Linked DNA regions of Homo sapiens: regions 1, 2 and 3 are each reported to be linked to region 4. The links are microRNA targets in miRTarBase. Many come from high-throughput screens and were not tested one by one. Region 4 holds a microRNA gene; each other region holds the end of a gene's coding sequence.
Evidence for each region. The annotated mature microRNA hsa-miR-103a-2-5p reads AGCUUCUUUACAGUGCUGCCUUG and lies in region 4 at 3,948-3,970, opposite strand. An mRNA with a match to its seed (bases 2 to 7 or 8) in the 3' UTR can be bound and repressed. Matches are read on the target gene's strand: a 7mer-m8 pairs with bases 2 to 8, a 7mer-A1 pairs with bases 2 to 7 and ends in A, and an 8mer does both.

Region 1: the mRNA of HOMER2 is a reported target of hsa-miR-103a-2-5p. The part of its 3' UTR that is shown has no 7-base or 8-base seed match.
Region 2: miRTarBase lists RETSAT as a target of hsa-miR-103a-2-5p. The part of its 3' UTR that is shown has no 7-base or 8-base seed match.
Region 3: miRTarBase lists TRIM10 as a target of hsa-miR-103a-2-5p. Seed matches in the 3' UTR shown: 8mer at 4,839-4,846.

What each region holds. Positions count from the first base shown.
Region 1 is chr15:82,844,130-82,852,016 of GRCh38, reverse strand. It overlaps HOMER2 (homer scaffold protein 2), which reads left to right. Exons shown (of 9, transcript NM_004839.4): 8 at 786-866; 9 at 2,114-3,034. The coding sequence ends at 2,302. Among named protein-coding and RNA genes, the nearest start is that of WHAMM, 38 kb to the right of the region's middle. RefSeq lists an enhancer at 1,441-2,216.
Region 2 is chr2:85,336,600-85,343,815 of GRCh38, forward strand. It overlaps RETSAT (retinol saturase), which reads right to left. Exons shown (of 11, transcript NM_017750.4): 10 at 7,040-7,199; 11 at 5,356-6,782. The coding sequence ends at 6,643. It also overlaps the pseudogene PEBP1P2. Among named protein-coding and RNA genes, the nearest start is that of TGOLN2, 12 kb to the left of the region's middle.
Region 3 is chr6:30,148,405-30,156,291 of GRCh38, forward strand. It overlaps TRIM10 (tripartite motif containing 10), which reads right to left. Exons shown (of 7, transcript NM_006778.4): 6 at 7,323-7,355; 7 at 3,539-6,082. The coding sequence ends at 5,565. TRIM40 (tripartite motif containing 40) reads left to right here. Exons shown (of 6, transcript NM_001286633.2): 6 at 1-324. Among named protein-coding and RNA genes, the nearest start is that of TRIM10, 8.9 kb to the right of the region's middle.
Region 4 is chr20:3,913,587-3,921,473 of GRCh38, reverse strand. MIR103A2 (microRNA 103a-2) reads right to left here and starts at 3,980; the gene lies at 3,903-3,980. PANK2 (pantothenate kinase 2) reads right to left here. Exons shown (of 7, transcript NM_001386393.1): 5 at 4,424-4,547; 6 at 2,678-2,803. It overlaps MIR103B2 (microRNA 103b-2), which reads left to right and starts at 3,911; the gene lies at 3,911-3,972.

The sequences.
Region 1 (7,887 bases), not on the chromosome of region 4:
GCTGGGAGCCACAGCAAGGTGCAGACAGGCTGGAGCAAAGGCCTCCCCATGACCTCTGCCGCCTCCCTGTTACCCCTGTTCTATAGCTGGTCGTGCAGATCCACAAGGGAGCTGAACATTTCACAAGACACTCAGATGCGTTTGTCATCTGTCCTCAGAAGTTGAGTTTTGCTGCCAAATTAATGCCGCTAGAGACCCATGATGTAACCACTTATTTTCTTTTTTAAAAAAATTTAAAATGTATTTATTTTATTTAAGATGGAGTCTCATTATGTTGCCCAGGCTGGTCTTGAACTGGGCTGAAGCATTCCGCCCACCTCAGCCTCCTGTGTAGCTGGGACTATAGACACACGCCATGAGAGCACCACACACACGTGCCCACCACACCGCAGCCCAGCTCCCGGCGCCAGCCACCTGCACTCACTGCCACCATGCCTGGCCTACAGTCATTTATTTTCTAGGGGGCAGACAGTTAAGTGCACACATGTTGGAGGCCGTGCTCATGTTACCAAACTCCCTAGGCCTCACTTTCTCCACTTATAAAACAGAAATCGGAAAAACATCTGCCTTGTGGTGGTGTGTACAGACTTCACGTGACAAGGCGTGTGACACACTTCACCCTTGAAATTCCCTGAGATGAAGTATTCGCATGGTCACTATCACTGTCTATGCAAACAGGACAGGGTCCCAAAGCTGCTTCCACGAGCGTGCACACATTGGTGATTTTCAAGAATATATTTTATCTGACTTGCTTTCATGTTCTATCTCAAATTTTTTTCATGTAGGAGCTGAAAGATCTCCGAAAACAAAGTGAAATCATACCTCAGCTCATGTCAGAGTGCGAATATGTCTCTGAGAAGCTAGAGGTACGTGGGTTGGGGGCACAGCCATCCTGGCTCAGACAAGAAGGCACAAATGTCATGGTACTCATTTTCCTGCTTCCTATCACTTTCACACTGAGAATGCTGAAGGAGAGATTTTCTATTCACAAAAAGCTGGCAGTGACTGCACGCCAGATGGCACCGCATCCACCCCTGCCCCCGGGGCAGACTCAGCAACGTTTGTCTTTTGGTTTTGCAAGTTCTATGAAGGCCCCTGTGCATCACCACAGTGTAGACGACTGTTTCCTTGCAGATCCCTGGTGGGGGTGAGGAGCGGGGGGGCGGCCTGAGAGCCCAGGGTCAGGGTGTGGGGCCACTTCAGCCACTCCCCTGCCAGTGGCCTTGGGCACTGACCTTGGGCAGGCCTTCCTCCCTATCCTCAGATTTCTGATCACTAAAATGAGGATTTTCAGGGCTTCCTCCACCTCGGAGCGCCTCTTCCCTGCAGGTCCTCTGATATGCACACGGCGCTTCATGTAGTTACATGACCCTGGAATTGGTAACTGCTTCCTGTGCACATGTTCAGAAAGGTCTCTGTTTATTCCCTCAACATAAAGCTCTTATTTGATATGAAGAGTTAAAGGCTTATGGCTCATTTAAGGACTCACAGCTGTCCTGTCTTTGGGAACCTGCTTGTGATTTACCTAGATGTGCCTCTGTAGGCTTGTGGGGCCCAGCGCCACAGAACATCTCCATGGTAACAGCATCAGAGGGTGCACAGACTGGCTGTCCCTGAGTCATTGGCATGGCCAGTCCTTCCTCTCTGAGGGCCAGAGGCTGGCCTGGGGCTGAGGAGGCCACGCCTCTCTGTGGGACCAGGGGAACGAGCCACTCTCCCATCTGTTCTGTCTCTCAGGATGGAACTGAAATGTGGTCTCTGCTAGCCACTCAGACAGGGATTTCAGACTTTCCCTGCTGGGCCCTGTGTGAGGTCTCCCTCAGGCAGGACTCTGCGTTCTGCCTGCTTTGTTGGGTCTTGGGTTTTCAGGCTGGGTGTTGGTCCCTCTGTGGGAGAGCAGGCAGGAAAGGAGGAGGTCACTGAAGTGCCTGCTGCTTCCCTTCTGATGTCTTGGTCACAGGCTTGTGTGCTGGGGTAGCATGTCTCTAGGCAGCTTAAGCCCTGGCCCAGGCCCTCAGATTGGATGGAGAATGGTTGGTTCAGCTGTAGCAGGTTTTGAAGGATGACTCTCGTCACTCAGTTTTCTAGACCCTTCTCCCTTTTGCTTGGCCAGGCGGCAGAGAGAGACAATCAAAACCTGGAAGACAAAGTGCGTTCCTTAAAGACAGACATTGAGGAGAGCAAATACCGACAGCGCCACCTGAAGGTGGAGTTGAAGAGCTTCCTGGAGGTGCTGGACGGGAAGATTGACGACCTGCATGACTTCCGCCGAGGGCTCTCCAAGCTGGGCACCGATAACTAGGGCTGGCCGAGGCCCAGGCCCCGCCCGTGAGTCCCAAGCGTGTGTGCGAGACCAGATAGCTCTAGGACGTTCTTCTGTGTGCATTGCTTCTGTAAATGCAGGCGCAGTTTGTCGTGTTTCCAAACCAGTTGTGCCGTCCACTCACTCCTTTTCAGAATAGAAATCTCCTCTCGCTTCTCTGGCCTTGTGAGGTTGTGGACAACTGGAAGATTCTGACTCAGGAATCCAGAACTAGGTCTACCTTCAACATTTATGCAGTCAGGGCAGGGATGTTTATATCTTTCATAAGGGCTGTTGCAACCATATGAACTGAAAAAACACGCATTTTGTAATCCAAATATTGATATTCTTTACACCAAGCCATCAGGCTCCTTTTATCAAATAGCATTCAGAGTATTTGAATGTCCACCAGACACCAGCCCCGGGGGGCACAGAGAGAACAACATTCCTCTCTGTCAACATCGAGAGGCTTTAAAACAACTGTTTAGTGGAAACTTTCTGAGAGATGGAAAACAAGCTTCTGGTGGGTGCATTTTCTGGCCCGGAGTTGCCTGCATCCACGCTACTGCCCCCTGCCCCCCGCCCCCCCAGTTTGTACGGTTGCAACAGTGTTCCTTTTCTTGGTTTTAATTTCTGAGCAGATGATTGTGCTGTGGGAACAGCACACAGTGAGGGTGCCTAGCACAATGTCTGGCACAAAGTAGGTGCTTAATAAATATTTGTTCAATTAAATGTGTACACAGAATTTAGTGTTTTAATCAAACCCCACAGCAGAGCTGGGACCCTGTCGAATGATGCACCATCTTTGCTGTGCTGGGTAGTTAACAGACATGAATACCACTGTCTGGTCAAACCCAAGCTGGGGCTCGGGTGGCCCTGGGGCAGGGAGGGAGAAGGGGAAGCAGCAGGAGCTGGTCTCAGGCCCCTGGAGCCCATCCGTGATGCTCTGCCCCTGGGGCTCTCCAGACCCTCGAATCACCTTCTCCCCTAGGAATGGTGACCCAGGGATTCCAGGTATAGGGGCTGCCCAGGGCTTGGTACCTAGGGTAGGATTGTCTTATGGGTCTGGACAGCTGGGAAGAAATCACAGGCATTTCGGGGGGAGAGAGCAGCTCAGCTGACAAGCCTTGGCCCTCATGACAGAGGTGTTCCACCCAGCTCTGCGTCCTGCCTTTTTCAGTTTCTCCTAGGGAAGGGACTGCAGCCATAAACCTCTCCTCTCTCACAGAGCTGCTCAGTGGGGCCAGCGGGCCTGTGGGTGCTGTTGGCATCCTGCCCTGGGAGATTGCCCGTGTGTGGCAATAATGGCTTGAATCCCTGGCCCCACACATCTCTAAATGCCTTGAGCAGGGGGGAGGCTTTGGTGCCCCCTCACCCCTTTGAGAACCACCTAAGAGGACTACTCCTTCTAGAAACCTTCTCCCATGGACGTGGTTAGACTTTCTCCCTGCTGAATTTGGATTAATGAGCAAACAACCCGAGGAAGGAGGGAGATGGGGTCCGAACCCAGGTGCCCTGGGCCCCAAGGTGAACACGAGTCCTCCTGCTCTCCTTCCCTTCCCCTCACGGAGACGCCTCTCTGAGCTGGGGAGTCTTGTTTGGGATGTGGATGGAAGGGAAGGCTGGGCATCTGGAGCACCAAGGCACTTTTAGAGGAGCTCCCGCAAGGTGAGTGGGGGCTTTGGTTGAGTACATAGGGCTTTTGGCAGACAGGAAGTGGAAAGCGTGGCCAGCCATCTTTGTGATTCGGGGTAGTCTGCTGCTGGCCCTTCCCTTTCCCCAGAGCTCCAGACGGCTCTCAGGACAGTTGGTAGCAGCTCCCTCCTGGCTGCACCAGGAGACCAGAGAGCCGAGCTGGCTATGAGTCAGCCCCGTGGCCCAGCAGCGGGATAAGGGGATTCTCAAGCCAGCCTGGTCTGCCCAGCAGCAGGCTGGGTGTGTGGCTGCCTGGGAGCAGTGGACACTGGGTTCCAAACACCTTCCGCTGGGGTCTTCAGATGACCTCTGCCTTTATCAGGTGACTTATGAATCTAGAAAGAGCCCGCTTGACTGACAAGAGAATGCTCAGGTGACATGCATAGAATAGTTACTGAAGCCACTTGTACATTCTGATAGCAGTGACTTTAGAAAACTCCAGAAGTGGAGGTGTAGAAAATGTTGGAAGAGCCATTTCCACAGTGGGCTGCTGTGCAGTTGAGACCCATGATCCCAGTTCACCAAGCACTGAAGAGTGTGGTGAGCATCCTGTGGGCAGCAGGTGAGGAACTTGGATTCCTCCTGCTGTGTGTCCAGCTCTACAGCTGTTGCAACCCTGGAGCTAAGAGTAGTAAGGACTCCCTTAAAGGGAAAGGTAAGTTGGGCTTGGCCGTGAAAGCACAACAGCTTTTACAAAAGCACTGAACTTTCCATTCCTTCTGCTTTTCTCTGAAGATCTCAGTGTCTTTTCATTTACTTTCTTTTAAAATAGTGGCCCTGGAGCAACCTGGACGGTGTTCCCTTGAGCTGGTGTGACGTGCCCTCGTTTATTCTGACATCCAGCCCAGTCTCAGTACTGTTGTCATAACCTTACGCCAGACTCAGGCAGAATGTAAGCCATTCACTCGTGAGCATCGCAGCCGCTTGTGCTGCCTGGAAGCTGCAGGGCCAGGACTGCATTTTCAGTTTGCAATTGAGGTCTCCTGATTTTGGTGTTTCCAAGACTGGCTGCTATACCTTGATAAGCTTTCCTTCTGCCTCCATGAAACCTGGTGTCTAAAAAAGATCAACTAAAACTTGGAACCCTTTAACCAAGAGGACCTTTAAAAATAACCTTTCATTCCAGTCAAGACCCAGCTGGATGCATTTTAAAGTTGGGAGTGGCGAGGAAGCCTTCCTAGTGCCGCCCGGGGAATGTAAAACCACCAGAGCAACAGGTTGGGACAGTATGGTCAGGCCTTGGAGGGAAAGAGAACCAGTATCCACACAAGACCTCGAACTTGTGTGGCCCCTCAGTTTCATCTCTCCTGCCTGCCATCACATTAGACTTTAATTGGGTGAGAGAACAGGGCAGAGACTGTCACCTGCATTTTGCAGATGGGAAGTAGAGACAGAGAAAGTGACACGCCCAGGGTCACCCAGCGGTGACCAGCAGCGTGGACTCTGCATCCAGGTCTCCTGGACCTTGATGCAGTATCTTTTGAGACATGCCACTCTAGTCCCTTTGGTGACCCGTGGGTGCCAAGAGAAAATAATTCTTATATCCTGATAAGAGCATATTACAATTATATTATTTCAATATGTGTCCACAGCAAAGGACAGTTTACAAAAATGTGAATCCGAATGACATTTAGGAATGTTTGTTATAAATGATAAGTTCCACTTTGGAATGATTCTGGTTTTGCAGGAATCTTTCCAAGAAAGTTGGTTAAAATGATGTCTCTGCCTGTGAGGCCAGTTCTATGGAAAACAAACACACCCTGAGTTCTTTATTGATGGCTTTAGTGGAGGCAGAGCAGTATGTTCAAAACAAGTGGGAGGCCCTGAGATCGCAGGAATGGAAACAGAGTTCTGGCTGGGGGTGGCCTGTCCACTGCCCGCCCCTTCCTGGAGATGCACTCCTTTCTGGCTTTCTGGGGAGGGAGCAGCCTTGCTCAGTGGTGGGAGCAGCTTGAACGGGACCTGATCAACACCCAGGAAGACTGTGCACAGAGGGCAGTTGGTCTCCAGCCTGCAGGCTCCATGAGCACAGCCTTGATGGTGGTGGGCAGGCGCCTGCCTGCTGTGGACTACATTTGATGCAAAACATCAAGTAAAGGGTGGAGCGTAATACAGTGAATATGCCTCCCAGAAACATCATGCTCTGCCTATTTTAACAGGGCTCTTTTTCTTTAGAAAAGTCTCCTTCTCTATAGAAACCAGGGACAATTTTGGATGAGAGCCAACCACAGGACGCGCTGGGGACGTTATGGTGGGACCTCACATGTGGCCAGGTGCACCTTTGGGAAGAAGGCAGACGTGATGTGACTTAGCACAGGCACTCAAAAGAGGCAGCCACTGGTCTTTGCTAATATCCAGAAGTGGATTGTTTGTTCCATTCATCCTTCTAGAAGCTAAATTCTTTCATTGCCTTGAGACATCACTAGATTTTGAAGCACTTGCAAACTAGAAGCTTGCAAGATCAATGTCCATGTATATTTTTAAAGATATGCATGCTTTAAAAGGACCCTAATTTCTGAGTACATGGCTTCCCCAAAGAAACAGTATATATTCTGGAGATGATGGGGGTTTTGGCATGGAGAGGGACTCCTGTCTAGTCTAGAAAATGTTACTTACATGCCTCTTCCATGTACCGATCTCAAGAATATGGGTTTTCTAGTTGGCTTTAAACACTACCCAGGCAGGAAGGTGGCTTTGGTAAGAATTTTGAGCTGGATGAAATGTTCTAGTGAACTTACGACTGTGTATGTGCGCACGCGTGTGTGTGTGTGTGTGTGTGTGTGTGTGTGTGTGTGTGTGTGAAGAAACAGCAAAAGGGGAAGTGGGAGAAACAGTAAGGAAGCGTTTTTAATTAAAAATATGTATACCTAAGAGGAGACTTTATTTTCTATTTCTGGTGGTGGTGATCTATGTTCTGGAATCCATTTACCAGAAGTTTGTGGATCTTTTGTTTGAAGTGGAATTGTTCAGTGCCCTACTCTCTTTGACGGTGCAGAGCCTTGCGGCAAAGTGTTCTCCTGGGCCCTAGAGACCCCCAGGGCACCTGGCAGGAGCCCGTAAACCACGGCAGAGTCCCAAGTGGTGCATGTTTTGGCGAGTGATGGGCAGGACTGATGATTCACAGCTGTGAGGCTGTGCTATTGTTTTTACCCTCTTGTACTGCTTTTAATAGGAAGTCCCGACTTTACGTCAGTTGTGAGAGCAGCGTCTTATGATGTGACAGGCAAGAAGACATTCCTTGCATCAAATATAAGAGTTTAATGAGAAGAGTGGAGTGGATAAGTGAACTCTCCCAAGAGTACTGTTTTTTGTTTCCCTTTTTAAATGCTTTCTTGGTACATAAATAATATAATACTTTTTTTAAAGAAATTCCAGATGAGTGGGAAAAAAACCAATCACCTGTTATTACACTATCTGATTATAACCACTGTTAACATTTCAGTTTTTATCTTTTCAGACTTTTTTCTATGCATCTGTGTGTGTTTTATTACTTTTTCCATGAAATATAATCATATTATACATACTGTTTTATAACTTTTATCCCTTTTAATGCTATATTGTGAATAGATTTCTATATCAGTAAATATGTAATTACATTATTTTTAACCTCTATGTAGGTTGTACCTTGGATACTTAGGTTGTTTCCAATTTTTTTACTGTTGTAGTCAAGGACATAATGAAGTTCTTCTAACATCCTTGCGAACTTTTCAGAATATTGACTTAGGGTAATTTTCTGAAGTTATCACTGGCTCAAAAGTACGCGCCTCCCTATCTGCGGCTCCTTTCCTTCTGAGGCATACAGGACTTCACCCTCCATCCCCCTTGTACTCATTCAGGGTCCTATGACTAATTCTGGCCAATGAAATGTGAGCACAGGTGACACATGAAGC
Region 2 (7,216 bases), not on the chromosome of region 4:
AAGTGCTGCAATTACACATATGAGCCACCACACCTGGCCAGAAAAATATTCTTAATCCAGAGCTATTATCATGAATATTTTGTTGGTCCTCCTTTCCTATAGTAATATGTGCATATGATTGTTAACCAAAAATAAAGCAAGTTATAAACCCATATGTTGGCTGGGCACAGTGGCTCACACCTGTAATCCCAGCACTTTGGGAGGCCGAGGCAGTGGATCACTTGAGGTCAGGAGTTCGAGACCAGCCTGGCCAACATGGTGAAACCCCGTCTCTGCTAAAAATACAAAAATTAGCCGGGCATGGTGGCAGGTGCCTGTAATCCCAGCTACTCTGGAGGCTGAGACACAAGAATCGCTTGAACCCAGGAGGCAGAGGCTGCAGTGAGCCAAGATCCTGCCACTGCCCTCCAGCCTGGGCAACAGGGCGAGATTCTGTCTAAAAAAAAACAAAACAGGCCAGGCACAGTGGCTCACACCTGTAATCCCAGCACTTTGGGAGGCCAAGGCGGGAGGATCGCGAGGTCAGGAGTTCAAGACCAGCCTGGCCAAAATAGTGAAACCCCGTCTCTACTAAAAATACAGAAATTAGCCGGGCATGGTGGTGTGCGCCTGTATTCCCAGCTACTTGGGAGGCTGAGGCAGGAGAATCACTTGAACCCAGGAGGTGGAGGTTGTAGTGAGCCGTGATCTCGCCGCTGCCCTCCAGCTTAGGCAACAGAGTGAGACTTCGTCTCAAAAAAAAAGCCAAAAGAAAACCTTATGTAAAATGTTTGCCTTGCAGGCCTTTAGTGCTATACCTAGTCAGGTCACTTATCTTCTGGGACACTATCTCCTTGTTTTCCATTGTTTATTTTCTCCACATCCTTTGAGATCAACATACAGAAATCAACTATATTTCTATAACTTTGCAATGGACAATCTGAAAATGAAATAAGAAATAATTGCATTTGTGAATAGTATAAAAAAATCCATAGAAATAAATTTAACCAAAGAATTGCAAAATTTGTGTTGTGAAAACTACAAAACGTTGAAAGAAATTAAAGAAGACCTAAAGAAATGGAAAGATAGCCTATATTCATGGATTGGAAGACAGAGTTTTGTTAACATGGCTATGCTCCCCAAATTGGTCTACACCCAGTCTCTATTAAACACAGTGTCTATTAAGATTCCAGCTGGCTTGGTGCAGAATCGACAAGCAGATTCCACAATACATATGGAAATGCAAGAGGCATACAAAAGCAAAAACAGACGTGGAAAAGAACAAAGCTGAAGAATTCACACTTCCCAGTTTCAAAACTCACCAAAAAGCTGGAGTAATTAGGGCAGTGTGCTACTGGCAAAAAGACATAAAGAGAAACATCTTTGTTAACTACCTCAAGAGGTCAGCTTCACAATTTAGCGCTGGACTGCTAGCTTCTCAGATAATCAGCCTTAAGGAGTTTCCCCTCTTCATTATAACTTTTCTTTCAATTTGGGGGAAAAAAAACTACATGTAAATAATGCAAAATAATACAGAACAGTGTGAAGCAGAGTCAGGATTCCCATCTCTCCATCAAGTGTATTTCTTTCTAGTGTATGTTTGATTTCTAACTGACTTTAAAAATCATTTTGTGGGGCCAGGCATGATGGCTCACACTTGTAATCCCAGCATTTAGGGAGGTCTGCAGGTAGGAGGATTGCTTGAGCCCAGGAGTTTGAGATCAGCCTGGGAAACATAGCAAGACCCCATCTCTACACACACACGAGGTTTTGCCATGTTGGCCAGGCTGGCCTCGAACTCCTGACCTCAGATGATTGGCCGCCTCGGCCTCCCAAAATGCTGAGATTACAGGCATGAGCCACCACTCCTGCTTCACAAACTCCATTTTGCCTTTGGCAGAGGACGTGTTTTCTTTCTTCATGCCCTCTGGATATGATAGAGGTCCCCAAGCTTTTCCTGGCTACCACTTGCTCTGACCTTATACATGTTGGGTTTTGCTCTTAAAGAGGACAGCAGGAAGAAAGGTTGGTTTCAGAAACCAAGAGGGTTGGCAGTGGATGTGTAGATTTTGTCACGGAGTCCGCAGAGCTCAGCTTTTGAACCTCTGAGAAGTTTCATTTCTTGTGCAGAAAGAGTACACTTGAATTCAAGTTTGCCTTTAGAATTGCACTGAATAAAATACTGCACACTAAAGGAAAGCTTATTTTCTGCATGGTTGTCTTTTCAAAGACAATATTCGAAGCATGTTTCCTAGAGATTGTGTGGATGAGGGTGAGCTGGCTGAGGCATCACTCAAGCTAGGGGTGGTGTGTAAGAAGCACGAGGAGCCACAAGAGGCACCTCCTATAGTCAGCTAAGGGCTTCCCTTTCTGCGCCCAGCTTTTGGTTGAAGGGTGAATTTTTTTTTTTTTTTTTTTTTTTTTTTGAGACGGAGTTTCGCTCTTGCCCAGGCTGGAGCACAACGGCACGATCTCAGCTCACCACAACCTCCCTGGTTCAAGCAATTCTCCAGCCTCAGCCTCCCGAGTAGCTGGGACTACAGGCATGCACCACCACGCCTGGCTAATTTTGCATTTTTAGTAGAGACGGGGTTTCTCCATGTTGGTCAGGCTGGTCTTGAACTCCCGACTTCAGGTGGTCTGCCTGCCCCGGCTCCCAAAGTGCTGGGATTACAGGCGTGAGCCACCACGCCCGGTGAAGTGTGATTTCTATTAGACGAATCTGTGGTTCAGTCATGGATGTTAATAGAGGAACCTGTTTTCCTGCTACAGATTCCTGAGTAAAATTGCTGTAAGAGTCCACTTCTGGACTCAGGGCAAGTCGAAGACCAGTCTATGTAGAAAGGCTGAGGCAACTGGGAAAGACCTGACAGCTAGTTACATATATTCTGACATAGTCCCCCCATAATGGCTTTTAGTGACACATGTGCTGATAGAATTCTAAACCTCTAGAATTCCCCTGCTGGTGATGCTGGTGTCTTCTTTTGTGCTTGACTGTACAGGGTAAACTGATGCAGAATGCTGCAAGTGTGATGAGAGCTAGAACGCTGTGAAAACTCTTGCTAGGAAGGTTGGGCTCGGTGTGACTTGCTCCAGTAGGAATCCTGGGTAGAGATTTTTAGCTGCAATTAAACGGTACATCCAGAGCCAAGGGTGACTCTCAACTCAGGTAGTTCTACAGGTCAGGTGTGAATTTACCAAATCTCCCAATTTGTTTATTTGTTTTGTTTTGTTTTGTTTTTTTAGAGGAGGGTCTCGTTCTGTCACTCTGGCTGGAGTGCAGTGATCACAGCTCACTGCAGCCTCAAACTCCTGGGTTCAAACAATCATCCCACCTCAGCCTCCCAAAATACTGGGATTACAGACATGAGCCATTGTATTTAGCCAAATCTCCCAATTTAGAAACTCCTCTGTAAAGGGTTTGGGTCTGAGCTATATGTTTGGTCTTTTTTGTTTGTTTTGTTTTGAGACGGGGTCCCACTCTCTTGCTCAGGCTGGAGTGCAGTGTCACAATCTTGGCTCACTGCAACCTCCACCTCCCGGGCTCAAGTGATCCTCCCACCTCAGCCTCCTGAATAGCTGGGACTACAGGGGCACACCACCATGCCCAGCTAATTTTTCTGGGGGTGGGGTGGGGACTTTCTATAGAGACAGGGTCTTGCCATGTTGCTCAGACTGGTCTTGAACTCCTGAGCTCAAGCAATCTACCTGCCTTGGCCTCCCAGAGTGCTGGGATTACAGGCATGAGCCAAAGCACCCAGCCCTGAGCTGTATGGTACTTCAAACTGCCAACACGCCAGCCCCGGACACTCTGATTGGTATTCTTTTAATTCATCAGACTCCATGTGCAATAAATGACTGAGTGTTGAAACTGTTCTTTTTTGTTTGCCCAGTCGGTAGATGGCCACTTTTTGTAACTTTTTTTTTCATTCAGGTTTCTATTTTTATTCAACTATAAGCAAACAGCACAATTAATGCAATGTTCAGCAACTCCAGACCAGCTTTTCTTACTCCCGTGAAGAATGATCAGTTTAACAAACACCGATCTAAGGTTTCCTCCCAAGCTGTCAGCGAGCGCTGCTGCCGGTCTAGATGGCCATGTCCCAACAACAGCAGCGCCACTCTCCCTCCTGCTTCTTCCAGGATTGCTCTTTAAAGGGACCAGAGCGACATACTGATGCCTATTGAGGCATCTGAGATGCACCGTGTTGGGGGTTAGCCTCAATGCCAGCCTCTGGTTGTCTAGGTGAGTGACATCACCATAAAAACACATTGTGTACCATTCTGGACTCAGGATCACAAAGGCAGAGGCAACCAATCTTTTTTTTTTTAAAACCTTCCTTAAAGATTCTTTGATGCTTTGCTCTATCACTGTAGACCTGGTTTTTTCCCCCTAGTTTTTTCTTTTTTACATTCTGGGTTGCTATTTTCAGATTAACAATTTGATGACCCCATCACAGTACCAAAATATCCCCCAAAATGAAGTTCAAATTTGATCAAAACATAAATCAGAGTGAGTGAGTAAAATTATAAAGGCCAGGCAGCAGGAAAAGTCACCCTCAACCACCATCTGACTGGTCAGGTCTCACCTGTGCCAAGGGGGGCAGGAAGAGGAGAAACCTATTATACATGCAACACTGAACTGGGGAACATGGCTTGGGGCCTCCAGAACAGTTCAGGTCCCCAAGCTAACCCACTAGTTCCCAGAGAGTTGCTCGTACAGTTTGGGCACATAGTCGTCCCACTCAGCCTGGTAACACGTGCCAGCCACCGGGGCCCCGAGCTCGTACTTTTTACGGAAGGACACCACCTCAAATTTGCCACGGTGGTCTCCAGATCGGTTGCTGAGGATGGGCTCGTCACACTTTAGTGGCCTGTCCTGCTCATAAACCAGCCAGACATAGCGGTGGAGACCTGTGCCCTTGGGAGGCCCCGAGCCCACATAATCGGAGAGGAGTGTGTCACTGCTGATGTCATTGCCCTTCATGTTGACCACCAGGAAATGATGCCATTCTCTGTATTTGGGATCCTTCCTGCTGGGAGCATCAGGGTCTGTCAGGACCAAGGTGTAGAGCTTCCCTGAATCAAGACCATCCCACTAAATGCTGGTGGGTCTATTCTTAACCTGGGTGGGCGTCAGCACTTTGCCCAGCTCGTCCACCACCGCCCGGGCGTAGGTGACATGCAGCAGGTGCTGTGACCGCTCGTCCATTTCTCGCAGGCTCAAGGGCCCGGACCACTTGCTGAGGTCCACCGGCATGGCAAGGCCAAGCAGAGCATGCAGCCGGGAGTGCCGCGGTAGGCCAGGTGCGGGCGGCAACAGCGACATGGAGAGCTCAGCACACTGGCCTGGGAAGGCGCAGACCCCACTTTTTGTAACTTTATAATTACTTAATTTTATTTTTTTAAAGCTTATTTTGGTGTTATTCAGTATATAGTGTTTTACTGAGCTTCTGCAAATGCCATCACAATAATAGTTTTGTTTTCTTGAACAAAAAACCAAAATAAATTTCAAATGTTAAAGCAATGGAATCAATAAATTTATTAATGTTACATTAACACGAACTACAAAGAGACCTTTCGTATGTCTGATACCAAAGACATAACTGAAAAGTCATTTTTCCAAACCTTGAGCTTGCATTCACCTACCTGTCTAACCCTCACATGTGCTAATTAACTGCAAATGCCATTTCTGGGCTTCACACACATTCCGTGGCTTTCCCTTTTCTGATGTGACTTCCCTCCCTTACCCCACACCTCCCTGCACTGTCCCCTGCTGTGCCCTTGGCTGGAATGCCCTGCAGCCTGCTTCAGCCCAGCAAAGTATTCATCTTACCAGTCCATGCCCTGACTCCTGATGTCACCCTTCCCTGCATCACCCTTCCCTGTGTATTTGGTGGATAAGGCTTGATTGAGGCTCAGGTACTGAGTCCCTGCTGGCACATTGAGAACCAGCTGCCACCCCGATGATAAGGAAGACAGACCCGGGACTTCCATATGAATTGGATATGATCATCTGACATGCACCCTACTAACTGATGGATCCTGCTGTTACCCCAAAGCTCCAGAACCACACTGGCCAGACACAGGCATTTCCTGTCCCCTGAAGAGCCACTGAACCCAGCACAAAAGAGATCTAGAGCTCTCCAAACCTATGGAATGGCAACCAAAACCACGCCCAGGTTTTGAGTTAAGCCTCATTAGTCTCCCTTTTCCCTTGACAGTGTAGAACTGTGCAGCGTAGCACTAAATGAATGAGAGCAGAAGCCTCAGGACAGAACTGAACCCACCAGGTTGAGCTGACAACACTGCCAGGGGTTCTATCCACAGATGGAATATTCGCTTTGATCACTGAGTTAGGAGGCATGGGTGAGGGATGCAGAGCGCCGCTCGTCATGAGACATCAAGCTATCCAAGTCAATATCCTATTAGTAGGGATGGCATGTTATAAAAGGCGTAAAGATCTCACCTGCCCCAGCTGGAAGCAGTGATTCCATTGCCCCAGATTCGGAATTGTGATTTAAACTAGGCCTCTCTTCAGGCATCAGAACCAAATTAGAGTGCTTTATACGTGCAAGGAACTAATGCAGAAAGACATTATGGGTAAGTCAAGGGAGATGCCCCAGCCATTGGGCAAATTCCTCTGACTCCTCCCTGATGGAACTAATTCTTTTTCTTCTGTGCCCGGATCCTAGAATCAAGATTCTTAAGGTCTGAGTACAAGTTCCGCTTCAGGATGGCGCTGCTGCACAGCAGGGCACCTTGCAGGGCCCCGACCAGTCCACAGGTGAAGATATCCTGGCCTAGGAGGCAAGAGCAGAGGCCCCTGAGCGTGCACCCAGGCAGGCCCAGGGGAGGGTGGGGCCTTGGTGCTCTTCCCTCCACATGAGGGCCACCCAGAGCTGGCTCCAATCAGACAGGGGCCACAGCCTGCCCAGGCAGCCCTGCTCAGGGGATGGGAGGCTGCAGGGGACAGCAGGGCCTGAGGGCAGGAACAGAGGACGTTGGGCGACAGGGGCCCAGGGTCTCAGGTCCTGACAACATGGGGCAGTGAGTATACCTGTCAGATAGAGGTTGGGGATGGGGCTCTGGGCCCTCAAGGAGGCCATCACACAAGGGTGCAGGCGGCCCAGGTCATGGTCAGCCCCGTAGCAGGCACCTCGGGGAGCAGCCAGATAGAACTGGTTGGTGAGTGGGGATCCTGCAGTCACACTCTCCACCTGAGGGCAGAAAGGGT
Region 3 (7,887 bases), not on the chromosome of region 4:
TAGGGTGTCACTCTGGCAACTGTGTTGCATTGTATAGAACTCCTCCTTGCTGGCCCACCCTTTTAGAGCCCCTCCTAGGAGCCAAGAGCAGCTTCCAGCCAACAACAAGCAGAGGCCCTCAGTCTTGTGGCTGCAAGAACCTGAATTCTGCCAACAACCCGAGTGAGCTTGGAAGCAGATTCTTCCCCAACTGAGCCGGATAAGAACCTAGTCCAGCCAACACCTTGATTATAGTCTTGTGAGTACCTAAGCTGAGGACCCAGTGAAGCTGTGCCAAAATTTCCCACCCACAGAAACAGTGTGACAATAAATGTGTGTGTGTTTTTTTGTTTTCTGTTTTCGTTTTTGAGATGGAGTCTCACTCTGTTGCCCAGGCTGGAATGCGGTGGTGTGATGTCGGCTCACTGTAACCTCTGTCTCCTAGGTTCAAGCAATTCTCCTGCCTCAGCCTCCCTAATAGCTAGGGATTATAGGCGCCCGCCACCACACCCGGCTAATTTTTTGTGTTTTTAGTAGAGACAGGGTTTAACCATGTTGGCCAGGCTGGCCTTGAACTTCTGACCTCAGGTGATCAGCCCACCTTGGCCTCCCAAAATGCTGGGATTACAGGTGTGAGCCACCGCGCCTGGCCATGTGTTGTTATAAGGCAGTAAATTTGTGGTAATTTTTGTGGAGTAATGGATAATGAATACAATTGTATATTAGTCATTTTTGTATAAGCCTCACTTCTTTGGGTGAGCAGGGATCATATTCTGTCTGTGTCCTCATGTCTAGAACAGTGTCTGGCTCATAGCTGGTGTCCAGTAAAATTTTAAATGTATGTATAAGTGAACTAATAAGAAAGCATAAGGAAGGGCTCTTCTCAATCCTCTGATTAAAAAGAGCCATCAATTACCTTATAATCAGTATTTATTGAGCCTTTGCCAAAGTAGTCAATACCATACTGAGAGGTATAAGGAATAAAACATGGCCACAATTATAAAACAAGCCACGTGGTGGTGCAAAGAGTGAAAACTACAGGGTCAGACTTGAGTTTAGGTCTCGGTCCTGACACCTAATGCCTCTGTAACCTTGGGCAAATTACTTAGCCTCTCTGAACCTCTGTACTCCCCCCTCTAAAATAAGGGTTATGGTACCTGTGGCCTGGGATTGTTGTCAAAATTAAATACATGCTGAGTGTCTGCTAAAGTGTCTAAAACGTAAACATTCAAATATGTTCATTTTATCTTTTTTTTTTTTTTGGTGTATTCTGGCTTTATTGTTATTTTTTTTTAATTATACTTTAAGTTCTAGGGTACATGTGCACAATGTGCAGGTTTGTTACATATGTATACATGTGCCATGTTGGTGTGCTGCACCCATTAACTTGTCATTTACATTGGGTATTTCTCCTAATGCTATCCCTCCCCCCTCCCCCCACCCCAAAACAGGCCCTGGTGTGTGATGTTCCCCACCCTGTGTCCAAGTGATCTCATTGTTCAATTCCCACCAATGAGTGAGAACATGCGGTGTTTGGTTTTCTGTCCTTGCGATAGTTTGCTGAGAATGATGGTTTCCAGCTTCAACCATGTCCCTAAAAAGGACATGAACTCATCCTTTTTCATTTCATCTTTTTTTAAAAAAACCACTTCCCCTTTTGAAATGAAATATGGAATGATAAAAAAATTTTAAATAAATTCCACTTCACCATCCAGAAGTTTATAATTTAGCTGTGGAACTATGACTAAACAGCTACAGAATAAGAAGAGAGCGTGTAACTGCACTGAATTAGGTATCACAGAGGCTAAGTGCCCTGGGAATTCAGAGGAAAGAAACAGCGAGCCTGGGAAAGTCAGGGTAGGTTTTGTGGGGGAGGTGGGGATTGGACAAGTGGGAGAGGAAGGTGAGAACATTCTAGGTCACAATAACCACATGAATGAAAGCATAGAGGTAGGAAAAAGCCACGGTACCTTTGTAGGAGTGTGAGGAAACCAACCTGGTTAGGCTGGAATGTTCAGGAATGGGGAAGACGAGAAGTCAACAGGCTAAATGGATGACACCAAGACATAGTGAGGTTTCTGAGTCAGGAATGAAGGGAGAAGTGGTGTTTAATGAAAGCCAGTCTGGATCGTTTGCACAAGAAGGACTGGGACAGAGAGTTGGGGGCTGGAAGGAGAGGGGAGGAGAAAGAGCCTAGTGCAGATGTTCAGAAAAAAGGTATAGTTATTTGGCAAGAAGCTGCAGATCTCAGAGAAACATAAGATCCCAAATCTAAGAGCAAGACATTAGCCAAGGAAAGAACACCCCTGAAAGTGACAGCTAGCAATTTCTGCATCCCAGATGGAGTTAATGTCACCAAGAGAACTTGTACTAGGAGTAGGAGGAGACTGACAGCCCCCAGGGTCTCTCCTCAGGAGAGAATTCAGTTATACTGAAGATGCCTTCCAGGCCCCCCTTGGTCCCTTCTGACGTCACCACAGATGATCAGGCCAGGGGTGGGAGTCTGAACAGCAGATAATTGGCCAAACAAGTCTATGAGGTCACCTGTCAAGGAAGACCTTATCAAAGAGGGACAATAGTAATTAACTGAAACCATCAGGTCCTCTCGGAGATTCAGAAGGGATCCATGATGAATGTGTCATTAGTTGGCAAGAAGAGCAGACACAGAGAGAATCAGAGATGCATGTGCAGCCACGATGTATTGGAACAGGTGTCCATGACCCATGCTGCTGAGAGGCCGCAGGAATATCCAGTCTTCACGCTTCTTTGGACTTCGAGCCCACTTCTTACCGGTAGGTCCTGGGCATACAACATACCACTGCATAATGGTCATGAGCACAGACTCGGGAGCCAAACCACAAGACTTCAAATGCTGGCTCTGCGACTTACTATCAGCTGATTTGAGACCAGCTGCTCGGCCTCCACATGTCTCAGTTCTCTTATGTACAAGATGGGCACCTACCTCCTGAGGTTGTTGTGAGGATTAAATGAGTTAATATATACAAATATTTATTATGGTGTTTGGCCAAAATAAGTTCTATGTGTGTGATTGTTATCAGCATTTTTGGAATCTCTAGTTCTTCCTACAGGAACGAGTGGTGACCCCACCAACTCGCTCACGCCTGACATAGCTTCTCACGGGGCCTGGCTCATGGTGGAAAATCGCATTTTCCTTATTTCTGCTTTTATAATAAACTTACCTATCATTTGAACTAACTTGAGTGGGTCTCAGTTCTTTGCAATAGAAAGGGTTGCTACCATGTAAGCTTTGAAAAATGAGGTGTAAACTGTGGATGTTACAAATGTGCAACAGTCCTTCAGAGTCGGAAAGGGTAGCTGGGACTCTGGGGCCTCTAGACTTGAGCACTTCCTGGGGAGGGAACCCAGAGTCCCACTTCCGGCCAGCAGAGCAAGGAGGTTCATTAAGCTGCCTTATCTTGAAGTTACCAGGTTTTAGGATCTATCCACTTCCCCTGTGCTGACTCCATACTCCGAAAGCAAGTAAACTTCAAGTAAAATTACCCTAGGGGAGAAGCAGGTACTGACAGACCAACATGAGTGTTTTCACTTATGAGCAGTTTTATTTCTCAGTGTAAGACATATAAATTGTTCTCACTGACATATAACTATTAAAAGAAAAATAAAATAAAACAATTTAAAAAGAAGAAATATAAATTGTATTTCTGAATCCAAGTCACCTGTGGGGGTGTAGCCAGCATTAAAATAATCGCCAGGACCCATGCAGGCATCTATCTCTGAATGAGGCAGTGCAGCATAGCAGTTAAGAGCTCTTGGGTCAGACATGGATGAACTGGTTGCATGATCTTGGCTCGTTACCAAGATAAAGTGACACAAGGTGTGTAAAGCTCCCGAGCTGCAAGCCAGGATCTTCATACACATACATTTTAGAGGATAATAGTCCTTTCAAAAGACACAGCTAAAGCCAATAAAAATAAACAAAAATAGGATCTACTTTTCTGGAATCACAGGTTTGGGTGCTTTGGATATGTTTTATCATTATATAGGCACTTGTGTGTGTCTGTATTTTTTTGAATATACAACATTTTAATGAGATACTGCACACTCCCAGGGAAAGCAATTCAATCTCTAATCCCTGGCTTCTGATCTCCACCTCTTTTCTACCTGCTGAGGTAAGGATGAACAACAGAACTTCTCAATTGAATTCTAAGCTTGGGCCTAAGCACGCTGTGCCCTCTGCCTTTGAGTTTGCACCCTGGATGGCTCCCCTCCTCCCAGGAGACCCAGTAGGGAGATGACAGAGCATTGTAGTTTACACTGAGCAGAGTAAACAGATGATGTTAAGGAGACTGTCAGTGAAGGGCATGATTATGCAAAATAAAATACAATAGTGACAAGAACAAGAAAATAAAACATGGTCACTCTTCCATCCCATTTCTCAGATGTCACTACAGTAGTCTCAATTACGGTAGTCTCAATTCTTTAGACTAAAGTTCATAGGTCATCCAACTTATGCCCTGGCCTCCTTCTGGAATTCTTTTACCTAGCAGTTTCTGAGCCCACAGCTGAGCTATTTGTGACCCATTTGCTCCCACTATCTCATTTCTTGACCTCAGATGGTAATCAACTGATCAGGAAGACAATTTCCCTAGGGTTGAGTGTGGTCCCTGGGTTATGATTTATGGCTATACCTTATGTCCTCCTGCCCCCAGGCCCTGCACCTTAATCTCACCCAGAAGTGGCAACACCAGGAGGAAGGAGGCAGTGAGTGGCGTCGGCTGGGGATGGCACACATCTGCCCATAATGACAATGGAGACAACCCAGTGCTCCAGAGTCACAGGTCATCCAGCCAGTTCTCTGCTGTTTCCTCTTCTTAAGATGCTTCTTCCCCTCTTTTCCCTATTGACCATAGGCATCCTTTAGACCACCCTTTTCAGAAAGCCATCCCCCACTCACCCTCTCCTTCCAGGCTGGGCTATGCCCCTTCCCCTGAACTCCCATAATGCTGGGGTTGGACTTCCCGTAACACCCACCACACTGTGCTGTAATTTCCTCTTTATGTTTCTCTGTCTTCCCAAGAGCTCTTTCAGATATAGAGCAGGTTTTTTTTTTCTCTATATTTTCAAGTCACCAGTGGCCACCACACTGCTTGGTTCATAGTTAACACAAACTAAATGGTTCTAGAGAATGTGATTACATGAACTCTAACATTATTGGAAGAAAACAAGATGAAAAGAGGTGAGATGCCTTGTTTAAAGTCATACAACTGGTTGACAGGCTGGTTCAAGAACCCAGGTCTTCTGACTTCAAATCCAGTGCCCTTTCTATGCAGCTACTTCTGTGCCAAGCACGGATGGTGGTGAGCAGAACTGGCAGCAGCCTGAGTCCCCAGGTACCCTGGCCATCCACTGGGCATTGGGGAAAGGACTTGATCAGTAGATTGAGAGTCCTCTCTTCTATCCCTTACCACCCGGCCCCATCCCATCTTCTAAAGCAGTCATTTCTATTCCAAGTCATCCAGGTGATTCAGCCAGGGATCAAGTCCACATGGTACTTGGGTTGATATGAGTCCTGTACTTAGAGGAGAGTAGGTAACTGCTCCTTCTCAGGAGCTCAGGGAGAAACTGGACCCTCGGCCCCAGAGCCCAAAGAAGGGAATGACCTTCCTAGTGAAGGAGGCAGTGAAGGTGTAGATGGGCTCTCGGGTGACAGCGTTGGTGAAGGTCACCCAGCCCACCTCATAGTCAAGAGACACCCTCACCTGCCGGGGCTGCTCCTTCAGGGTCAGCCGTGTGGGGAAGGAGCCCAGAGCCGAGACGAAGCCCCAAGCCAGCCTCACAGCCCACACCCCCTCCTCTGGCCGCAGCCGAAGCTCCCCCTTCCGCTGCACATCCTCGCTCACCACGCCCACGGTGCAGCTGCCCCCATGGGCCAGGTCTATACTCACCACCCACGTGTGTCTCCCCCCTGTGATGCCAGTGTGGGCCAGAACACAGGTGGCCCGGTCAAAACGTTGGGGGTTGTCTGGTGAGTTCTGCCATTTGTAGGAGAACTGAGCTCGCTGGTGGTCCTCGGACAAGAGGAGCTTGGGGTGGGAAGTCTGAGGGTCTAGAGAAATGTGAGCTGTGGGGATAACCAAAAGGGACAGATGTCAGCAGACATGCTATTACCTCCAAGGAAGGCATAGAAACTCCCCCTGGGCCCCTCCTGTTAGTGTTATTATTACCAAAAACATGTATAGTGCCTACGTGGGCCAACAGTGTGGAACCACCTGGGAACTTGTTAGATATACGCTCTCAGAATCTGCATCCTAACAAGATGCCCAGGTGATTTGCACACAGGTAAAGCCTGAAAAGCCTGCCTCAGAGGATGTGAAAGCTCTCGTTTAGTTCAGTGTGGTCCTCGGGAAAGCTCTTCTGCTCACCGCAAGTTGGCTGGTTTCCAAAGCTGTGCGTGCCAGCTTGGATCTCCTGGGGCTGATATACCACATTCTCCCCTCCTCCCATCTCTATCCCACAGTGCAGCGACATTTCTCCCTTCAGTCCAAACTTCATGATTCCTCCCTGTTTTCCTCCCAGGGCACTGGTGACTCATTTACAGTCTTCCCTCCTGGCAGGCTCTCTGGCTCACCCCTGGGTTATTCACTCTGCCTCAGTAATTCTGAAACTGTCAGAGTCTGAGGACCACTTTTTACCACCAAAAACTGCTGCAGAGCCTTGCGTTTTGTTACTTTTAGTATTCATAAATTGAGAAGCTTCCATAAATTTAGGTCCATCTGTGGGTTAGAGAACCCCCTCCAACAACTCCGTGACTCCCAGGGTCTTAGGCTGGTTGATTGAGAAATGACAGCCTTGAAGGGGTCCATTCTGTTCATTTTTTTCCCACCCACAGGCCGCCCTCCTTCTGTCATCTGTGAAATGACATCTGAGAGGAAGCAGGGGTTCCTTACGTTCTAAAGAGGTGATTATAAACCCAGATCAAAGTCCCCTTTATCCAGAAAGCATTCCCAGATGGACTTTATCCCATTCTGCATTAATCTTTCTATCTACTCGACATGCGCAGATCAGGATGTGAGCTTCATACCACGAATGTAGTATGTGTATGTGCTTGTCCTTTCTTCATGTTTCTCCTGAGAGCCTTACAAACAATGTGACACACACACACACACAACCTATATATACACACATGTATTATATACACACACATATGTGTATATATAATATATATGATGTGTATATGTATCCATGGGTGTTTGTTATGACTATTGTCATAGTCATAACATAGTCATAGTGCAAATCCTGCAAAATTTTCTCTCCTTTCCGAGGACTTCTCATTCTCTCCCATCCTGACATAGGCTCCTTACCTGGCTCATAGTCCAACTCAAAGCATAGTTTTTCTGTAAAGAAAATAAACCAGGATGAGATTTTATTAGTCTTACAAAACCATCAGACACTTAATGATGAGAAAACTGAGGCCAAGAAGAGGGAAGGGACAAGAAGAAGAATGTAAGCTGGAATCCTCTAGACCAGTGGTTCCAAGCTTGCATCAGAATCATCTGGAGCTCTTGTTAAAACACATCTGTTTCAGATTCAGGTGCTCTGGGGTGGAGCTGAACATCTGTATTTCTAACAATTTCCTGGGCAATGCAGCTGCTGCTGCTGGTGGGAGCCCCACTGCCCTAGCCCTGATCAAACAGGGACCATGACTGCCTTGCTCACCTCTGTACCCGCAGAGCCCAGGACATAGTAAATGCTCAAGAAATATCTGCTTAGTGAATAGAGAAATGGGTTCATTTATTTATTATTCCACTTGGAAATAATTTTGGGGAGAGTCAAAGGTCAGCCTTTGATTAGAGTGAAATTTCCTTCACTGACAGGTCACTGGAAGTATTTGCAGGAAATGGAATTATGGGAAAAGTCCTTCTAGGG
Region 4 (7,887 bases):
CCACTGAAGACTAGGATGCTACTATCAAGACAGAAACAGGTGGTTATAAACTACAACGTGCTAAGATGAGAATAAAGGATCAAAGAGGAAACGCTTGAGAGAATCTATACGAAGCTTTCACAACAAAAGTTAAAGTGACTTCAATGTGAGGGCAAGAAAATATTTCAAGGCTCAGAGAGGCTAAAATAATCAAAGTTCTGAACTGAACAATGAGAACACTTGGACACAGGAAGGGGAACATCCCACACCAGGGCCTGCCATGGGGTGGGGGGAGGGGGGAGGGATAGCATTAGGAGATATACTTAATGTAAATGACGAGTTAATGGGTGCAGCACACCAACATGGCACATGTATACGTATGTAACAAACCTGCGCGTTGTGCACATGTATCCTAGAACTTAAATAAAAAAATAAAATAAAATAATCATCAAAGTTCCACAAGGGCAGAGATGCACACAAGAGTCAAAGGCCTGAATGCAAATGGAAAACACAGGGACAAATGGACCAGCAAAGCTAAGCAGTGGGAAAAACAAAGTCAGCGAGCAATAAGGACAAAATGCAACCAAGAATTTCACGAAGGCTTATAACTATTATGATGATATCGGTTTGGTGTTTTGTTTTTTGTTTTGAGATGGAGTTTCGCTCTTGTTGCCCAGGCTGGAGTGCAGTGGTGCGATCTCGGCTCACCGCAACCTCTGCCTCCCGGGTTCAAGAGATTTTCCCACCTCAGCCTCCCAAGTAGCTGGGATTACAGGTATGTGCCACCACGTCCAGCTAATTTTTGTATTTTTTGTAGAGACAGGGCTTCTCCATGTTGGTCAGGCTGGTCTTGAACTCCTGACCTCATGATCCGCCCACCTCGGCCTCCCAAAGTGCTGGGATTACAGGCGTGAGCCGCTGCACCTGGCCTGTTTGGTGTTTTTGTTTGTTTTGTTGTTGTTGTTTGTTTTTGTTTTTGAGACAGAGTCTCGTTCTGTTGCCCAGGCTGTAGTACAGTGGTGCGATCTCAGCTCACTGCAACCTCCGCCTCCCAGATTCAAGAGATTCTCCTGTCTCAGCCTCCCGAGTAGCTGGGGATTATAGGCGCCCGCCATTGCGCCCAGCTAATTTTTGTATTTTTAGTAGAGACAGGGTTTTGCCACATTGACCATGGTTGGCCAGGCTGGTCTCCTGACCTTAGGTGATCTGCCCATCTCAGCCTCCCAAAGTGCTGGGATTACAGACGTGAGCCACCGCACCCAGCCTATTTTTTTTTTAAGGTTAACTTAAAAAACTAATCTCCATGTTCTACCTAGGAAAAGGTTAAACAAGAGGCAGAAATAAAGCAGAAAAAGATCTAACATTCGAGTTTAAAAAATTCTAATATAAAGCAAAATAAAATAAGTCAGATCACAAAAAAAGATGTATACAGAAACATGAACTGTAAGAAACTTAATGGCAATTCGGTGCTGGTTTACAAATACAGTAATGTTAGAATTTTAAAACTAAGTTAGATGACTTCAATTTTAAGCTTTTTGATATGGGGATTTGTGTACTTTGGACTTCAACTATGAACTAAAGCAATTTAAAAAGAAAAACTTAAAGTAACTTTAAAGGAAAAAGTAATCTCTAGCACTTCAAATCTGTGCTATTATCTGGACTTTGATTTCCTTTAATTCATATAGACTGTTAAACTAAATATGCAATACAATTCTGAAAAATGTTCATAATAACAGTATCTAAAATCCAAGAACAGTTGAAAGAATAGTTCAACTGCCCCACAACCAAGAAGGGAAGAAAGAACCCCTACACGCCTTTCCATACCTCTGCTTCTTTTTCCCCAAATAGGAAAAATAAGAGTGCTTTCCAAGACAGGCTATGAGGTTGAGCAATTTGATTCTTTTCCATTTCATCATTTCCAGCCTGTCTACAATTGTACTTAAGTTCTTATGATAGTATGGTTCTAGTCTGAGAGGTTTACTCATCTATTCATTTTTACAACATGCATCTTAAATAACTGGCACAAGAATTACAACAATATATAAAAACTGGCACTGAAAAAAATGAAAAAACCAGAACCCAGAGTAATGACACAGTCAGTGCAATAGAAAAAATATAGAGGATAGTTCAGACAAAAATATGGCATCAGAAATATAGGGGAATGTTCAAGGGTTTTTCTCTAAAATTCCTTAAGCTTACAATTAAATTAACCCAAAATTTACCTTGCATTAGTATCAGGGAAGAAACAGCTTTCAAATGTTACGAAATTAAACTACCAAAAAAGTTCAGGCACAGTGGTTCACACCTGTAATCCTGGAACTTTGGGAGGCTGAGGCTGGCAGATCACTTAAGGTCAGGAGTTTGAGACCAGACCAGCTTGGCCAACATGGTGAAACCCCATTTCTACTGAAAGTACAAAAATTAGCAGGGTGTGGGGGCGCACACTTGTAATCCCAGCTACTTAAGAGACTGAGGTGGGAGGACTGCTTGAACCCAGGAGGCGGAGGCTGCAGTGAGCCCCAAGACTGTGCCACGCACTCCAACCTAGGTGACAGAGCGAGACTCCGTCTCAAAAAAACAAAAAACAAAAGAAACACTGCAGCCCATTTCACCTCCACCCTCTACCTCAAGTTCCATGACAGTGTGACCCACAAGCCCTCTGTGTACATAATATACCACAACGAACAAGTCAGCTTACCTCGTGTTCCGAAAAAAGTGCTTTCAACTGCCCCTTGGACCAATAATCCAAAGCATATGCCAAAAGCCGCATGGCGATCGTATTAATTCTCAAGAAATTTCCAACAAATACCACCTGGTTAATGTTCTGAGCACACCAAAAAAAGGCAATTAGTTTTCATCTTAATTTCTATTTTCTCATAAAAGCTACCCCAAATACAGCACCATGTGCATAGCTCTTAGCAACAATTTGACTGCTGATCAAATTTAGTCCAGTTGGTCCAGGGCTACTTAAACTTGATCCCCAGACAACTCTGGACCCACTGCAAAGCATGCTAGATAATGTCACAGGAGAAGAAAACAGATTAGGAAAAACATTTGTATTAAATCTGACCAACAATAACTAGTTTTGAATACAATGTTTTATACAGATAAGTTAAAATAAACAAAAAAAAACAGTATGACTCCAATCCAAAAGGACAGTGACACAAACAGGCAAAGTATACAAGCAATATAACAGGCAGCGAAAAATTCAAACCACTAGTCATCAAACAAAAGTAAAATTTTAGACCTATTAACCTCGCAAAAAAAAGCAACTGAAATTCCACCACCACCATCAGTAGTTGTAGTAAAATTAATCCACTCATTCACCGCTAAAGATGATCTAAATTGGTGCAGCCCTTGTGCAAAGCATCATGACGATAAATGTCAAAATTCATGAGCATGATCATTTCTGTAGACCAGAAATCTCACTCCTAAGCCCCATATCAAGAATAAAATTCAACCAAAGAATAACTTCATGCTTAAAAATGCTTACTGCCGAGTTATGAGCAAGCAACCAAATGCCAAGCTCTGTTATTTGATATAAAAGAACTTGATCAAATAAATATACAACCATGAAATGTATATTTAAGTATAAAATACAAATTGTGGTATGCACACCAACTAAAATTTCTGAAAATACGTAAGCACAGGAAAGGGAACATACAATAAAGAAAAAAGAAGTTATGATATTCCAACAAATGTTTAATTACTTGATGCTGATACAGTATTTTTTTAATTTAAAATGAGACAAATCCTTTGTGTCTTTTGAGGTTTCCTTTTAAGCTACATGCCTATTATTATCTAAAGAATAACTTCTTAAAAATAAAAATAAAAGAATAATTTAACAACTATACACACAGGGACAAGCCATAAGCTGCACCAACTGGATCCTAGATCCTCTTTTCCCAAGGGCAGCCCATTCTTGGTTCTTTCATAGCCCTGTACAATGCTGCTTGACCTGAATGCTACAAGGCAGCACTGTAAAGAAGCTGAAAGCACAAAGACGCAGCTCTGCTGAGGTGGGGGAGCCAAGGAGGGCACCCCTCGGCCTGCTCAGTCTTCTCCCAGCTTCCGTGACTTCCTCTGGATTCCTCCCTAGGGCCTCTAGAGCTCAGCAGTGAGTGTGGAGTCTACATTCAGCATCGTTATCCATCATCACCCCCAACAGTCCCCAATATCTGGAACACTGGCTACCTTCCACTCTTCCTCTACTTTCTCCTCAAAAGATGTCATTTTACCTCTAGACAAGTAGCAATGTTTATCTTCAGTTTAAAAAAAAAAAAAAGAAGATTAATCTGTATTTGAAGAGTTTTAACTTCGTGCTAAAACAAACCCCACCCCAAATGACTACATTTAGGCACTGTTCTGAGAAAACAGACGTGATGGGGCCCACTTAAGTTCAGTATTTTCCTTAGAGCAATTAAAGAAATCCATGTCCCCTTACTTCATTAAGGGCACACATTCTTGCTATTGAGCCAATGTTGTTGGTGATGGTGATCAAAGTCGCTCTGGCCAGGTCCTCTTTACTGACAGCCTCTCGCTTCTCCTTGCTCATCATGTTTCCAAAGCTGTGATGGGGGAAAAAAAATCCCATTGCTAAACCAACAGCAACAAAGCCCAACAGAACTTGAATGTTACTTTATTGAAATAAAATTAGCTTTTAGGGCAACATTGTTGAAATCTTCAAACCTTTTATTTTGCAATGGAGCATCTGTTCAAAGAGAAATGCAAACTTCAAACAGAGCCCTCCAACATTCTAAATGAGCAGACAGCTTTCCCTGCGGTTTCTACTGAAATCTAGCTTGGATACCAGATATTCACATATTCAGTTAGAATCTCATCAGATGCACTGGAAGGCACCATTGCTCCTGCAACCAGACAGTTCCAGGACAACACCTCTAACAGCAATTCATCTCAACTGCACAGCTGTTCCACTCAGATGGCCACATGCACATCTGGTAAACTGCTCTATCAGAGCAGAGTAAAGCACAGACAGCTGAGTCCCAGAGTGAGCTGCTTAAGAATTTCAGGTTTCCCTAGAAGATAAAGTACTTCAAAGTACATGCTCAGCAGAACTGCTACAATAATTTTCCAATCAGAAAAGGAAGTGATGACCAACGAGCAAATGTTACAAACAGAAAATCAACAGCATTGACCAAGTGCCTAAAACTTAGTAAACAAGCATGTATACATATGATTTTTCTATTAGTAAAAGCCATGTGCCCCAATATACGAAAAACAATTGTACTTCTAAACGATCTCAAAATGGAGACAATGATTTCATTTATAATAGCATTAGAGAATAAAACACTTACGGATATATCTAACAAAAGTATTAACACCTGTACAATAAAATCTACAAAACACTGCTGAAAGAAAGCAAAGATCTAAATCAATGGGAAGACATTCCATCTTTTTGGATCAGAAGACTTTGTATTAGGATGGCCAAAAGATTCAATGTAATCTCTATTAAAATCCCAGTTGTCTTATTTACAGACCTTGCCAAGTTAACCCTACAATTCATATTCTCAAGGTACCCAGAATAGCCAAAATAATCTCGAAAAAAGAACAAGTTGGATGACTCACACTTTCTTACTTCAGAACTTAATACAACGCTACAGTATCAAGGCAGTATGGTACTGGTATAAAAACAGACATATATATCAATGGAACATAACTTAAGAGTCCAGGAGTAAACCCAAACATCTATGGTCAACTAATTTTTGACAAAGGGGCCAAGAGAATTTAACAGGGAAAGAATCATCTTTTCAACAAATGGTACTAGGACAACTGGATATCCACACGCAAAAAGAAATGAACTTGGAGCTCTACCTCACACCATACACAAAAACTTACTCAAAATGGATCAAATATAAGAGCTAAATATAAGAGCTAAAACTGGCGGGCGTGGTGGCTCACGCCTGTAATCCCAGCACTTTGGGAGGCCAAGGTGGGCGGATCACGAGGTCAAGAGATCGAGACCATCCTGGACAATATGGTGAAACCCTGTCTCTACTAAAAATACAAAAATTAGCTGGGTGTGGCGGCACGCACTGTAGTCCCAGCTACTCAGGAGGCTGAGGCAGGAGAATCGCTTGAACCCGGGAGGTGGAGGTTGCAGTGAGCCGAGATCGCACCACTGCACTCCAGCCTGGTGACAGAGCAAGACTCCATCTCAAAAAAGAAAAAAAGAAAAAAATACACACACACACATATATATATATGAGCTAAAACTATAAAACTCTTAAAAGAAAATAAACAATTCTTCATGATCTTAAATTAGGCAATTCTTCATGATCTTAGATTTCTTACACATAACACCAAAAGCACAAGTGACAGAAGATAGATAAGATTAACTTCATCAAAATTTAAAATTTCCATGCTGCAAAGGACACCATCAAGGAAGTGAAAAGACAACTAACAAAATGGGACAAAACATTTGCGAATTATGTATCTAATAAGGGACTTGTATCCAGAACTCAATAATAAAAAGACAATCCAACTAAAAACTTAGCAATAGACTTCAGCAGACATTTATCCAAAGACTACAGACAGATGGCCAGTAAACACATGAAAAGATGTTCGGGCTGGGCACAGTGGCTCACACCTGTAATCCCAGCACTTTGGGAGGCCAAGGTGGGTGGATCACTTGAGGTCAGGAGCTCGAGACCAGCCTGGCCAACATGGCCAAACCCCATCTCTACTAAAATTACAGAAATTAGCCAGGCATGTTGGCATAATTTACAGGTGTGCCTGTAATCCCAGCTACTTGCGAGGTGAAGCAGAAGAATCACTAAAACCCAGGAGGTAGAGGTTTCAGTGAGATAAGATGGTGTCACTGCACTCCAGCCTGGGCAACAGAGAGAGACCCTGCCACACACACAAAAAAAATGTTCAGCCAGGAGTGATGGCTCACACCTGTAATCCCAACATGTTGGGAAGCCAAGGTGGGAGGATCACTTGAGGCCAGGACAGCCTAGGCAACATAGCAAGACCCTATCTCTACAAAAAAAAAATTAGGCAAGGCAGTGCACAGCTGTAGTCCTAGTGACTCAGGAGACTGAGGCAGGAGAAACACCTGAGCCCAGGAGACACAGGCTGCAGCCAGTTATGATCGCAACACTGCACTCTCATGTGGGCAACAGGGCGAGACCCTGCCTCTTAAAAAATAAAAACGCTACAAGATATCACTTCACTCCTATTAAGACAACTAAAACCAAGAAGACAGATAATAACAAATGTTGACAAGAAATATAAACGCTCATAAACTGCTAAGATTGTAAAATGGGACTGCCACTTTGGAAAACAGTGTAGCAGTTCCTCAAAAGATTAAACATTAAGTGACCATATGACTCAGCAATTCTACTCTCAGGTATATACCCAATAGAATTAGAAATATATGTGCAGGCCAGGCGCAGTGGCTCACGCCTGTAATCCCAGCACTTTGGGAGGCCAAGGCGGGCGGATCATGAGGTCAGCAGATCGAGACCATCCTGGCCAACATAGTGAAACCCCATCTCTGCTAAAAATACAAAAAAAATAGCCGGGCGTGGTGGCAGGCACCTGTAGTCCCAGCTACTTGGAAGGCTGAAGCAGAAGAATGGCATGAACCCAGGAGCTAGAGCTTGCAGTGAGCCGAGATCACGCCACTGCACTCCAGCCTGGGCGACAGACCAAGACTCCGTCTCAAAAAAAAAAAAAAAATATATATATATATATGTGTGTGTGTGTGTGCATACATACAAAGACTTACATATAAATGTTCAACATTATAACCAAAAAATGGAAACAACCCAAATGTTCATCAACCAATAAATGGATAAAATGTAGTATTATCCACGTAATGAAATATTATGTGGCAGCCGGGCGCGGTGGCTCACACCTGTAATCCTAGCACTTTGGGAGGCT